2 separate regions of the Homo sapiens genome follow, and region 2 is linked to region 1. A link means that fine-mapping ties the variant in region 1 to the expression of a gene that starts in the linked region. Tissue or cell type: nasal epithelium. Region 1 holds a variant in brackets; the other region holds the start of a gene. All regions are shown on one strand. Distances are from middle to middle.

Region 1 (7,886 bases):
CTCGGCTCACTGCAGACTCCGCCTCCCGGGTTCACGCCATTCTCCTGCCTCAGCCTCCCGAGTAGCTGGGACTACAGGCGCCCGCCACCACATCCGGCTAATTTTTTGTACTTTTAGTAGAGACAGGGTTTCACCGTGTTAGCCAGGATGGTCTCAATCTCCTGACCTCGTGATCTGCCCGCCTCGGCCTGCCAAAGTGCTGGGATTACAGGCGTGAGCTACCGCGCCCGGCCTAACCTGCATTCATTCTTTAAAATAGTCACTTTTTTTTTTCTTTTTTTGAAACAGAGTCTTGCAGCCTTGACCTCTCGGGCTCAAGTAATCCCCCAGCCTCAGCCTCCTGAATAGCTGGGACTACAGGTGTGTGCCACCATGGCTATTTTTTTTTTTTTTTTTTGAGATGGAATCTTGCTGTCACCCAGGCTGGAATGCAGTGGCATGATCTCGGCTCACTGCAACCTCCACCTCCCAGGTTCAAGCGATTCTCCTGCCTCAGCCTCCTGAGTAGCTGGGATTACAGGCACCTGCCACCATGCCAGGTTAATTTTTGTATATTTAGTAGAGACGGGGTTTTGCCATGTTGGCCATGCTGGTTTCAAACTCCTGATCTCAGGTTATCTGCCTGCCTCAGCCTCGCAACGTGCTGGGATTACAGATGTGAGCCCCTGCGCCTGGCCTTATTTATTTATTTATTTATTTATTTATTTATTTATTTATTTTGAGATGGAGTCTCACTCTGTAGCATAGGCTGAAGAGCAGTGGCTCGATCTTGGCTCATTGGAACCTTCGCCTCTCGGGTTCAAGCAATTCTCCTGCCTCAGCCTCCCCAGTAGCTGGGATTACAGGCATGGGCCACCACACCCAGCTAATTTTTGTATTTTTAGTAGAGACAGGGTTTCACCATGTTGGCCAGGATGGTCTCAAACTCCTGATCTCAGGTGATGTGCCTGCCTCGGCCTCTCAAAGTGCTGAGATTACAGGTGTGAGCCACCATGCCTGGCTTTTTTTTTTTTTTGAGACAGGGGTCTGGGACTGTTTTCCCAAGCTATAGTGCAGTGGCACAATCATGGCTCACTGTAGCCTTGAACTCCTGAGCTCGAGCAATGCTTCCAACTCAGCCTCCCTACTAGCTGGTAGCTGGGACTAAAAGTGTGCACCACCACGCCTGACTAATTTTTGTATTGTTTTGTAGAGATGGGCTGGGGGGGTGGTGGGGAGTTGGCCATGGCTGGTCTCAAACTTTCGGACTCAAGTGATCCACCTGCTTTAGCCTCCCAAAGTGCTGGGATTACAGGCTTGAGCCTCTGTGTCCAGACAATTCTTTAAAAATTTTTTTCAGAGATGAGGTCTCACTATGTTGCCCAAGCTGGTCTTGAATTCTTGGGTTCGAACTATCTCACCACTTTGGCCTGTCAAAGTGTTGGGATTACAGGTGTGAGACACTGTGCCTGGCCTTTTTATTTGTTGATTTATTTTGAGACACAGTTTCACTCTGTCACCCAGGCTGGAGTGCAGTGGAGTGATCTCGGCTCACTGCAACCTCCACCACCCAGGTTCAAGCGATTCTTGTGCCTCAGCCTCCTGAGTAGCTGAGATTACAGGCGTGCGCCACCATGCCCAGCTAATTTTTGTATTTTTAGTAGAGACGGGGTTTTACCATGTGGCCAGGCTTGTCTCAAACTCCTGATCTCAGGTGATTCGCCCATCTCAGCCTCCCAAAGTGCTGGGATTACAGGCCTGAACCACTGTGCCCAGCCTCTTGCATATCATTAATTTAGGAGCGGAAAACCTTTCCAAGTGTACAAAAAGGATGCTAACCACATGCTCACTGCTTGTCTAAGTGCTTAATATGTACTCCTTGCAACAACCCCCAAGGTAAGTTATATTATTATCATTCCTCCTTATAGATAGACAGGTGTGCCTCCTGAGGCACAGAGAGATTAAGGAATTTGTCTAAGGTCACACAGCAGTATGAAACAGAGCAGAGATTTCAACCTAGAAAGTCCGACTAATCACACACAATGGTGAACTCCAGCATTTAACTTACTAGGGGAAGAAAGGAAGGAGCTTTTTTGTTTTGGAGATGGAGTCTCCCTGTGTCACCCAGGCTGGACTGCATTGGCAAGATCTCAGTTCACTGCAACCTCTGCCTCTTGGTTCAAGTGATTCTCCTGCCTCAGCCTCTCGAGTGGCTGGGACTACAGGTGTGAGCCACCAAGCCTGGCTAATTTTTTTTGTTTTTTTTTTTGCATTTTGAGTAGAGATGGGGTTTTGACATGTTGGCCAGTCTGGTGTAAAACTCCTGACCTCAGGTGATCTACCCACCTTGGCCTCCCAAAGCAGTGGGATTACAGGGATGAGCCACCGAGCCTGGCCGGAAGGAGCTTCCAAAATGTTAGTTAAAGCACCCCAATCCCTTGCTGGGCCTAGTTAATACTTTTTAAGTTGAGATGATAATATTTTGCACATACTGGGTTAAATAAAATATGTCGCTAAAATTATTTCCACCTGTTTCTTCTTGCTTTTTTTTTTGAAACAGAGTCTTGCTCTGTCACCCAGGCTGGAGTGCAGTGGTAGGATCATGGCTCACTGCAGCCTCGACCTCCCAGGCTCAAATGATCCTTCCACCTCAGCTTCCTAAGTACCTGGGACCACAGGCAAGTGTCACCATACCTGGCTAATTTTATTTAACAAAAATTTTTGGTAGAGATGAGGTCTTTCTACATTGTGTTGAACTCCTGGGCTCAAGTGATCCACCCGATTCAGCCTCCCAAGTGCTGGGATTATAGGTGTGAGCCACTGCACCCGCCCCTTTACCAATCTTTTTTTTTTTTTTTGAGACAGAGTCTCACTCTATTGCCCAGGCTGGAGTGCAGTGGCACGATCTCGGCTCACTGCAACCTCTGCCTCCTGGGTTGAAGTGATTCTCCTGCCTTAGCCTCCTGAGTAGCTGGGATTACAGGCACGCACCACCAGGCCCAGCTAATTTTTTTGTATTTTTAGTAGAGATGGGGTTTCACCATGCTGGCCAGGCTGGCCTCGACCTCCTGATCTTGTGATCTGCCCGCCTCGGCCTCCCAAAGTGCTAGGATTACAGGTGCGAGCCACTGTGCCCAGCCTGCCTTTACCAATCTTAGACACCTCTTGGAATATTCCCTGGAATTATGACAACCCGCTGAGACTCCAAGCACCACTGCCAAATCCGTCTCCCAAAGCACCACTAAGCTCCTTTCCAAAAACCTGCCAGCACTGACTTCTGTGTGAGTGAGTCCAAATTTTCTAGACTGTCATGCAAGACCTTCTGATTAGCATCAGCTCTCTTAGCACATACAGGATGTGGCTGTGGCATCCCAGGGACCTGGATTCAAGTCATGCCTCCCCTTCTTGGTAGGTGTGTGATCCTAGGCAAGTCACTTCACTGTTCTGGCTTCCATTACCTCATCTGTGGAATGGGGATGATAATATGCACCTTGTAGGGACAATGATGTCTTCAGCACAGAGCTGAGTGTGCAATGAGCACTTACCACTGTGAATCCATATTATTATTACATGGTGTTTTCTTTTCTTTTTTTTTTTTGAGAAAGAGTCTCACTGTGTCACCCAGTCTGGAGTGCAATGGCTTGAATATAGCTCGCAGCAGCCTTGACCTGCCAGGCTTAAGTGATTCTCCTGCCTCAGCCTCCCAAGGAGCTGGGACCACATGGGTGTGCCACCACTCCTGGCTAATCTTTTTTTTTTTTTTTTTGAGACGGAGTCTTGCTCTGCCTCCCAGGCTGGAGTGCAGTGTCGCGATCTCAGGTCACTGCAAGCTCCGCCTCCTGGGTTCACGCCATTCCCATGCCTCAGCCTCCCGAGTAGCTGGGACTACAGGCACCCACCACAACGCCCCGCTAATTTTTTTGTATTTTTAATAGAGACAGGGTTTCACCGTGGTCTCTGTCTCTTGACCTCGTGATCCGCCCGCCTCAGCCTCCCAAAGTGCTGGGATTACAGGCGTGAGCCACCGCACCCGGCCGACTCCCAGCTAATCTTTAAATTTTTTGTAGAGACAGGGTCTTGCCATGTTACCCAGGCTGGTGTTGAACTCCTGGACTCAAGTGATCCTCCCACCGCAGCCTCCCAAACTGCTGGGATTACAGGTATGAGCCACCCACCCAGCTTACTTTGTGCTAATTTTTTGTTGTTGTTGTTGAGACGGAGTCTCACTCTATCACCCAGGGTGGAATGCAGTGGCTCGATCTCAGCTCACCACAACCTCTGCCTGCCAGGTTTAAGCGATTCTCTCACCTCAGCCTCCTGAGTAGCTGGGATTAGTGGCACCGGCCACCACGCCTGGCTAATTTTTGTATTTGTAGTAGAGACAAGGTTTCACCATGTTGGCCAGGCTGGTCTCGAAGTCCTGATCTCAGGTGATCCTCCCAAAGTGCTAGGATTACAGGCGTGAGCCAGGTCGCCCAGACTTTTTTTTTTTTTTTTTTTTTTTTAAGAGATAGGGTCTTGCTCTGTGTCCCAGGCTGGAGTGCAGTGTTGCAACCATAGCAATCATAGCTCACTGCAGCCTGTAACTCCTGGGCTCAAGCAACGTTCTTGTCTCAGCCTCTGGAGTAGCTGGAACTACAGGTGTGAGCTACCGCACCCAGCCTTATAATTACTTTGGTTCTATTTACCCTCCCAGCTGGCTAGGCTGGTCTGGTGACCATAGTGTAAGGAGGAGTGCCTCATTCTTGCCAATAATAGCGACAAGGATGAGGATAGTCAAACAACTCACA[C/T]CTACTGAGGTCTATTCTGTGCCAGGTACTGTTGGGGCCACACTATAACTTCCATGGACCCTTCCTTCATGAAAAAATATTGTCATTCATGACTGTATTGGTACAAAGAGAAATATAAGGGAGACTGGATTATATTCATTTTTCAGTTCTTATTTATTTATTTTTGAGATAGTCTTAGTCTATCACCCAGGCTGGAGAGCAGTGGCATCATCTCAGCTCACTGCAACCTCTGCCTCCTCGGCTCAAGCAATCCTTTTACCTTAGCCTCCCAAGCAGCTGAGACCACAGGCACAAGCCACTACACCTGGCTGATTTTTTTTTTTTTTTTTGTAGAGCTGGGGTTTCACCATGTTGCCCAGGCTGGTTTCGAGCTCCTTAGCTAAAGTGATCCACCCAGCTTGGCCTCTGAAAGTGCTGGGAATACAGGCGTGAGCCACTGCACCCAGCCTATTTTTTTTTTTACTTCTAATATTAAAAGAAATTTAAACAATTCCCTGGGCCCCTAAAAATATTGAGGGACCTAGGCACTGTGTCTAATGTAGATCTTGGTCCTGTGCATAGTGCTAAGCACATTGTGATTTGTCATGACAGCTCCAGGGAGCAGGGACAGGGTGGAATACCCTTTATTTCTAGGATTTATTCCTGAAGACTTGGCATTATTTTATTGTGTTATGTTATGTTATTTGCTTATGAGACAGGGCCTCACTCTGTTGTCCAGGCCGGAGTACAGTGGTGTAATCACAGCTCTTTGTAGCCTCGACCTCTCAGGCTTGTGATCCTCCCCCTCCCACTTCCAGAGTCACTGGAATTACAGGAGTGAGCACGCCCAGCTTGGCATTGTTTTATTTTAATTAATTATTTTTCATTTTTATTTTTATTTTTTTGAGACAGGATCTCACTCATTGCCCACGCCAGAGTGCAGTGGCACTATCTCAGCTCACTGCAACCTCCGCCCCTTGGACTCAAGCGATCCTCCCACCTCAGCCTACCAAGTAGCTGGGACTACAGGCATGTGCCACCACGCCCGGCTAATTTTTGTATTTTTAGTAGAGACGGGGTTTTGTTATGTTGGCTAGGCTAGTCTTGAACTCCTGATCTCAGGTCATCCACCTGCCTCGGCCTCCCAAAGTGCTGAGATAACAGGCATGAAACACTGCACCTGGTCTATTTATTTATTTTGAGACAGAATTTCCTACTCTCACCTGGGCGGGAGTGCAGTGGTGCCATCTCTGGTCACTGCAACCTCTACCTCCTGTGGCTCAGCCTCCCAAGTAGCTGGAATTACAGGCATGTGCCACCATGCCCAACTAATTTTTGTATTTTTAGTAGAGACGGAGTTTTGCCATGTTGGCTAGGCTGGTCTTTAACTCCTGGGCTCAAGCAATCCACCTGCCTCAGCCTCCCAAAGTGCTGGGATTACAGGCATGAGCCACTGCACCCGGCCATGATTTTAAATTCGTATAATTCATTAGCAAGCCTGACTCAAGTTGGCAAATATGTCGATTTCCCAAAGAAACTCACATAGCAGGAGCCATCAAATAAATAGTCAGTATTATAGGGCTGACAATCCTCAGACCTAGTAACTTTTTTTTTTTTTTGAGTCAGAGTCTCACTCTGTTGCTCAGTCTGGAGTACAGTGGCGTGATCTTGGCTCACTGCAGCCTCCGTCTCCTGGCTTCAAGCGATTCTCCTGCCTCAGCCTCCCAAGTAGCTGGGATTACAGGCGCAAGCTACCATACCAGCTAATTTTTGTATTTTTAGTAGAGACAGTGTTTCACCATGTTGCCCAGGCTAGTCTCGAACTCCTGGCTTTAAGTGATCTGTCTGCCTTGGCCTCCCAAAGTTCTGGGATTACAGGCATGAGCCACCGCGTCCAGCCAAGGCCTATTTTCATCTGCAACAAACAGATTTTGTGAGCAAAAAGCGGGGAAAGTGGCTGCTGGGGGAACCACACCGAACTTCTCAAAGGCAGGGACCATGTTTTAGGTGTCTCCTTTTGCCTACATGGGGCTTATAACTCAAGCAATGTTTGTGAATGAAAAAAGCCAAAGAGGCCGGGCACAGTGGCTCAAGCCTGTAATCCCAGCACTTTGGGAGGCCGAGGTGTGTGGATCATCTGAGGTTGGGAGTTTGAGACCTGCCTGGCCAACATGGCGAAACCCCAGCTCTACTGAAATATAAAAATTAGCCGGGCGTGGTTGCTCATGCCCGTAGTCTCAGCTACTTGGGAGGCTGAGGCAGGAGAATGGTTTAAACCCAGGAGGCAGAGGTTGGATTGCACCACTGCACTCCAGCCTGGGCGACAGAGTGAGACTGTCTCAAAAAAAAAAAAAAAGCAAAAGAGAATTTATTTAAGAGTTTGATTCAGCTGCAGTGGCTCACGTTTGTAATCCCAGCACTTTCGGAGGCTGAGGCAGGAGGATCTCTTGAGCCCAGAATTTCGAGACCAACCTAGAAAACATACGGTGACCTTTTCTCTACAAAACAAAAAATTAGCCGGGTGTGGTGGCATGTGCATATGGTCCCAGCAACTTGGAAGAATGAGGTGGGAGGATCACTTGAGCCTGGGAGATCGAGGCTGCAGTGAGCTGTGATTGCACCAATGCCCTCCAGCCTGGGCAACAGAGTGAAACCCAGTCTCAAAAAAACAAAAACAAGAAGAGTTTAAGGAACATTTTTTCCTGAAACATGGTTCATGATAAATTTAATCTCTAAAAATGTTTTAGGAGGAAATGTTGTAAGTTCAATAAAATGCCTTTCTCTGTACCTGTGGCAGGTAGGCAGAATAATGACCCAAAAGGTGTTCACGTCCTAATCCCTGGGACCTGTGAATATGTTATGTTACACCGCAATGAGAAATTAAGTTTGTAGATAGAATTAAGGTTGCTGATCAGTTGATCTGAGATGGGGAGAATACGATGGCTTATCCAGGTGGGCCCAATGTAATCAGAAGGGTACTTACAAGAGGAGGCAGCAGGCTTAAAGAAGAAAAAAGGATCAGGTGCAGTCCCTCACGCCTGTAATCCCAACACTTTGGGAGGCTGAGGCGGGTGGATCACGAGGTCAGGGGTTTGAGACCAGCCTGGCCAATATGGTGAAATCCCGTCTCTACTAAAA
Region 2 (5,633 bases), 38 kb before region 1:
AAGTGAAACAGATAACCCAGTCCTTGGCGTGGACTCCGCTCTTCTGTCCCCCATTACTGCCATTGATAAATACCACTGGGGAGTGCCTACTGCAGAATCCCAGCCACTTTGTCATTTGCAACCTGGCCAGCCATTTTTTCAGTGACTATCCAATTACTGGAAGTAAGTTATTCTATTCAGAGGTGAACACCAGTCACGCTTAAGTGTTCCCACCAACCGGTGTGCAGCGCCCCACACTTGGAGCCACCGCACAGGACAAATACTGCTTTTCCTGAGCTCCCCTGGAGCTTCATTCATTGAGGCAACCCAAGATCCCTTGCTAAAAGCAAAACTAAAGCATTCCACGCCGTTTTCATTCAGGTGGCCTCCATTTGACTCCCGACAGCCTGAACTCGTCACGTAGGTAAGAAAACTTTTTAAAGACCATTTGGACTTTGCTTTGTTTCAGTGAAATGGGTCGTGAGAAAAAGTGCCTTCCAACGACCAACTCCCTAAATCCAACACCCTTCTCTTTACAGCGTCTTCACATCCAACCTTTACAACCAAGACTCTATACCTCAAACTACAGTGCCTTGGAAAATTACTGCCACATCGGCAGAAAACCGAGTTACCTTTCGAGTCAGGTTTGATTCTGATGCAGGCAGCCATGTGCGGCAGGGCTTTCGCACGGTTGCAAGCGCACACCTGGCCGGATGCTGGCTGCACCACACACTGCCAAGTACAAACTCCCCGAAAAACAGGTGGATTCGGAAACCAACAGCGCCCGGGTCAGAACTCTGGGCCAGTCCAAAACCTGACAACATCTGCGTTCCTTGCAGGTATTTTCGAACGTAAGCCCGACGCTAGGCAGTGCTGTTAGAAAGTGATTTGGAAGAGCGCTTCCGAGCCACGGCGCGCCCTCCGGGGGAGCGCACCGGAGCAGGTGCGGGCGAGCCCCGCGCCCGGGGAGGTCAGGAATTCCCCAGCCACACCAGATCCAACCGGACGCCCCAGAACGGGGACGGTCCCCGGAGTCCGCCTCCCAACCTGGGTGAGAAAACACCTCCGTCCCTCCGCTGCCTGAGCGCTCGAATTTACAACTCAGGGCGCTTTGTGCCGCGGAGGCCCGGCGGACGCGAGGTCGGGACAATGCACGGGGCCGGGGTCCCGGCGGCCGCCCCTCGCCCGCGGACCCGGCATGACTTTGCAGCCTCGCAGGCCGGGGCCGGGAGGCCAGGCCGAGGCCCGGCGGCCGCCCGGGGCCTGGTTAAAGATGGCGAGCCCCTCGCGTGGCTCCCGCGGCTCCCCCGGCCACAATGAAAGGCGCCCCCCGGCCCCGCCGCGGCCGGCCCTCGGGCCTCACCTTCCATCTCCATGTCCTCGGGCTCGCTCAACTGCTGCTCGCCCGCTTTCTGCTGCTGCTGCTGCTGCTGGTGGTTCATGTCGGCCGCGGCCTGGGCCTCGCCTGCGGCCGGGGGCCGGGGCTGCGAGCCCGGCGGGCGGGCGGCGGCGAGCCGGGGCGGCGGCGGCGGCGGCGGCGGCGGGGCGGCCTCCTCCTCCTCCTCCCGCGCGTCGTCGGCGACGGCGGCCCCGGGGCGGCCCGCGGCGGGCGGCGGCGGCGGCAGGGAGACGCGCACGTACTTGCTCGCGATTCGCCCAATCTCGGCGCCGAGGCGGGCGGGCGGCCGGCGGGCCGGGCCGGGCGGCCTCGTCGCTCGCTGCGGCCGCCGCCGCCGCCGCCGCGGGGCCCGCCTCCCGCCGCCGGGGCCGGGGCCGGGGCTGCGGGGCCGCGGGCCGGCCGGGGGCGGAGGGCGGCCGGTCGGGGGCCGCGGAGTCAGCCCCGCCTCGGGCCGGGCGCGGCGGACGGGAGGCCTGGCCGGCCGCGGCGGGCCTGCGGGCCCTGGGGCCGGCGGGAGCGGCGGAGCGGGCGGGCGACGGGCCGGCCGCGTTCCGAGAGCCGCGGCCTCCGCCTCCTCGGCGTCGTCGTCGGGGCTCCGGCAGCGGACGCGGCGCCCGGCAGCTCGGCTCGGCTCGCTCTCAAAATGGCGGCGGCGTGAAATGTCACATCCGCATGGGGGGCCGCGGAGCGAGCGAGCGAGCGAGGAGAGCAAGCGGGCGGGCGCCGAGCCGGAGGGCGGAGCGGGAGCGCAGGGCGGAGCACGGGAGGCGGAGCAGGGAGCGACCCGCCTGCCGCCGCCGCCGAGGCCCGCCTGCCCCGCAGCGCCGCGCCCCGGCACCGCCTGCGCCGCAGCCCCGCGGCGGACCCTCGGCGCTCCCTGCCCCCGGGCCCTGGGGGCCGAGGCGGGCCGCCCGGTGACTTAGCCCTGCGGAGGTGAACCGGAATCCTTCCCATCCTGGGGAGCCGGACACCCCGAAAGACCCAGGAGCGGCAATGAGGAGGGGCCCAGAAGCCACCCGGCAGCCGGGGTTCAGGTCCCAGCCTAGCGCGCCGGGGCGAGCGCTGGAGGTTGCCCGGGGACTGCTCGGGATAGGGCCCGGAAGGGAGCTTGGGGTCAGCGCCTAGAAGTTCCTGTTATTGTCGTTACTTACCCTTGCCCGCTGACGTGCACTTTTTCACCCAGTATCTACCGTGGAAGAATTTATTTTCTCACTGTCAGCCTAATCTGGCAAAGTTTGGCTCCTCAAGAGCAACCCCAGGCGGGGCGCAGCTGCTCACACCTGTGATCCCAGCACTTTGGGAGGCCGAGGTGGGAGAATCACTTGAGGCCAAGAGTAAGAGACCACCCTCTCTACAAAGGTTTTGGGTTTTGTTTTTATATTTTTGAAATGTATTTTTAATTAGCCGGGTGTTGTGCCTCCTGCCTGTAGTGACAGCTACTTGGGAGGCTGAGGCTGGAGGTTCGCTTGGGAGGTTGACTGAGGCTGCAGTGATCAAAGATGGCGCCACTGCACTCCAGCCTGGGCAACAGAATGAGACCCTGTCTCAACTAATAGTGATAATAAAATAATAATATAAAAATAAAACAAGCCCACTACCCTTCACATTTGGTATTAATTTACTTCCTTCCTATCAACCCAGTCTGGGATCATTCACCCGGGGCCTCCCTATTCCAGGAGACATTTGGTGAATATATCTCCTGTCCTGTCTCATTCAGTCATTGACAGACTGATGATTAGGGTCTCAACTTTTCCAGTTAATCAAGGCAGTGTGGGTCAATAAAAATGGAGCAAACCGATATACATTTCTACACATCTCAGGGGAGAATAGAATTTCACCCTAACAAGGCCAGAAGATTGTGGTACCTGTCTTCTCTCCATCTCCCTATACCCGCTTTCCCTGCATTTTTCTCCCATTTATGTACTGTTCATCTCCCTTCCCCCCGAAAGAATGTTTTGCTCACTGTTGTATCACAAATGCCTGGGATACACAGCAAGTGCTCAATAAAAATTGGTTGGGCCAGGTCGGCGCGGTGGCTCACACCTGTAATCCCAGCACTTTGGGAGGCCAAGGCGGGCGGATCACTTGAGGTCGGGAGTTTGAGACCAGCCTGACCAACATGGAGAAACCCCGTCTCTACTTAAAGTACAAAATTAGCCGGGCGTGGTGGCGCATGCCTGTAATCCCAGCTACTCAGGAGGCCGAGGCAGGAGAATCACTTGAACCCGGGAGGTGGAGGGTGCGGTGCGGTGAGCTGACATCGCGCCATTGCACTCTAGCCTAGGCAACGAGCGAAACTCTATCTCAAAAAAAAAAAAAAAATTGGTTGGGCCAGGCACGGTGGCTCACGCCTGTAATCTCAGCACGTTGGGAGGCCGAGGTGGGCGGATCACCTGAGGTCAGGAATTCGAGACTAGCCTGGCCAACATGGTGAAACCTCATGTCTACTAAAAATACATACAAAAAACTTAGCCGGGCATGGTGGCATACGCTGGTAATCCTAGCTACTCAGGAGGCTGAGGCAGGAGAATTGCTTGAAGCCAGGAGGTGGAGGCTGCAGTCAGCTAATCACACCCCTGCACTCCAGCCTGGGCAATAGAGGGAGATTCCATCTAAAATAAATAAATACATAAATAAATATTGGTTGAATGGGCCAGGCACAGTGGCTTACACCCCTTATGCCAGCACTTTGGGAGATTGAGGCGGGAGGATCAATCACTTGAGCCCAGGAGTTGGAGACCAGCCTGGGCAACATAGGGAAACCCGATCTCAATCAGCCAATCAATTAATCAATCATTAGTCAACTGGTTGAATGAACATATGATTCAAGCGTGACTGGATCCCCCTCACCAGCATTTCGTACGCTTGAAGGTTTTTCACCAGTATATTTCCTGCCAGACCACAGAGGTGAGCAGGGGAGAGCCCAGTCACTTCAAAGGAATCCCTTGGGTCACCCCCAGAATCTGAAGAAGAGGTATTGTTATTCACACAGATTCTCACAAATGCTAATCAACAGCGCTCAGATGCAAAAGAGTCCTTCTCTCTAGTATTCTGGAAGCTTGGAGGAGGGAAGAAAGTGCCTTTCTGGCAGAGGAAGAGGTGGCAGAAAGTTATGTATATGGCTGTCAGTTCACATTGGCCAACCTTATCCTCATCACTGAGTTCAAAACCAATCTGGCCGGGCACGGTGATTCACGCCTGTAATCCCAGCACTTTGGGAGGCTGAGGCGGGCGGATCATGAGGTCAGGAGTTCGAGACTAGCATGACCAACATGGTGAAACCACGTCTCTACTAGAAATACAAAAATTAGCCGGGCATGGTAGCGCGCCTGTAATCCCAGCTACTCAGGAGGCTGAAGCATGAGAATCGCTTGAACCTGGGAGGTGGAGGTTGCAGTGAACCGAGATTGCACCACTGCACTCCAGCCTGGGCTATAGAACGAGACTCTGTGTCAAAAAAAAACAAAAAACAAAAAACAAAAAACACACAATATCTCTCTCTCTTTCTAGAAGCACCTTGAGGAAGAAATTGTCTTGTCTACAGCTCTATCCTCAGTACAGCACCAAGCTTACAGTGGATGCTCAGTGAAGATTTGCCGATTTGCCGAATGAATGCTTTCACCCCTGCAACTGTTTACTGCCTGCTAGGAGCTCAGAGCCTCTGGGATACAGGCTGGGAATGACAGTGCCTGCTCGCTTGGAAGGCCTCTCTTCTGGAGTCAATAAAACAGCACTTCTTTGCTTCTTCCTGGCTGGTCCACATCTTTCACTGAGGAGTGGATAGTGGAGGGAGAGTTCATTTCTAGGGCACCACAGCTATGAGAAAAGCAAGACCAGTGCCCTTGGAGGCCCACTAAAAAGGCCCCCACTGGATTATTCCAGCAGGCTCGGCTGGCCTGTTTTCTTCCTCCCCTGGTAGAATTGTGCCTGCATTGGCTATAAAGTCCATTTGCACACAGAAGGGGTGTGTGTGGAAGGACTCTGCAGAAGTGAATCCGCTGAGTAATGCCTGCTTCCTCAGAGGGTGAATGCCAAGATGCCTCCAAAGGACATGAAGGGCTCTGAAGGGGAAGATGACTGAGGGCACCATTTTTGATCACTGCCAATTAAAAAAAAAAAAATTCATGACCCCTACCGTGGTTCAGAAACCGGGGACTAAGGAGATGAAAAACCGGGGAGACAGGAACCGCTGGAGAAACTGACTTGTCATTAGCTAGAGCCAGTAAAGGGCAGGGAGGGCCCACCCTATCATTAC

The links. PIP is the estimated chance that this variant, and not a neighbour inherited with it, causes the effect.
Region 2: USP7 starts here. The variant in region 1 is fine-mapped to the expression of USP7 in nasal epithelium (TOPMed, PIP 0.98).

The regions. Positions count from the first base shown.
Region 1 is chr16:8,998,899-9,006,784 of GRCh38, forward strand. No RefSeq gene overlaps it. Among named protein-coding and RNA genes, the nearest start is that of USP7, 39 kb to the left of the region's middle. The variant C/T (reference allele first, on the strand shown) is at 4,770.
Region 2 is chr16:8,961,865-8,967,497 of GRCh38, forward strand. USP7 (ubiquitin specific peptidase 7) reads right to left here and starts at 2,042. Exons shown (of 31, transcript NM_003470.3): 1 at 1,343-2,042. The coding sequence starts at 1,421. USP7-AS1 (USP7 antisense RNA 1) reads left to right here and starts at 849. Exons shown (of 2, transcript NR_184341.1): 1 at 849-1,030; 2 at 4,889-5,126. RefSeq lists enhancers at 413-949, 3,646-4,269, 4,270-4,893, 4,894-5,515 and silencers at 2,145-2,504, 4,188-4,482.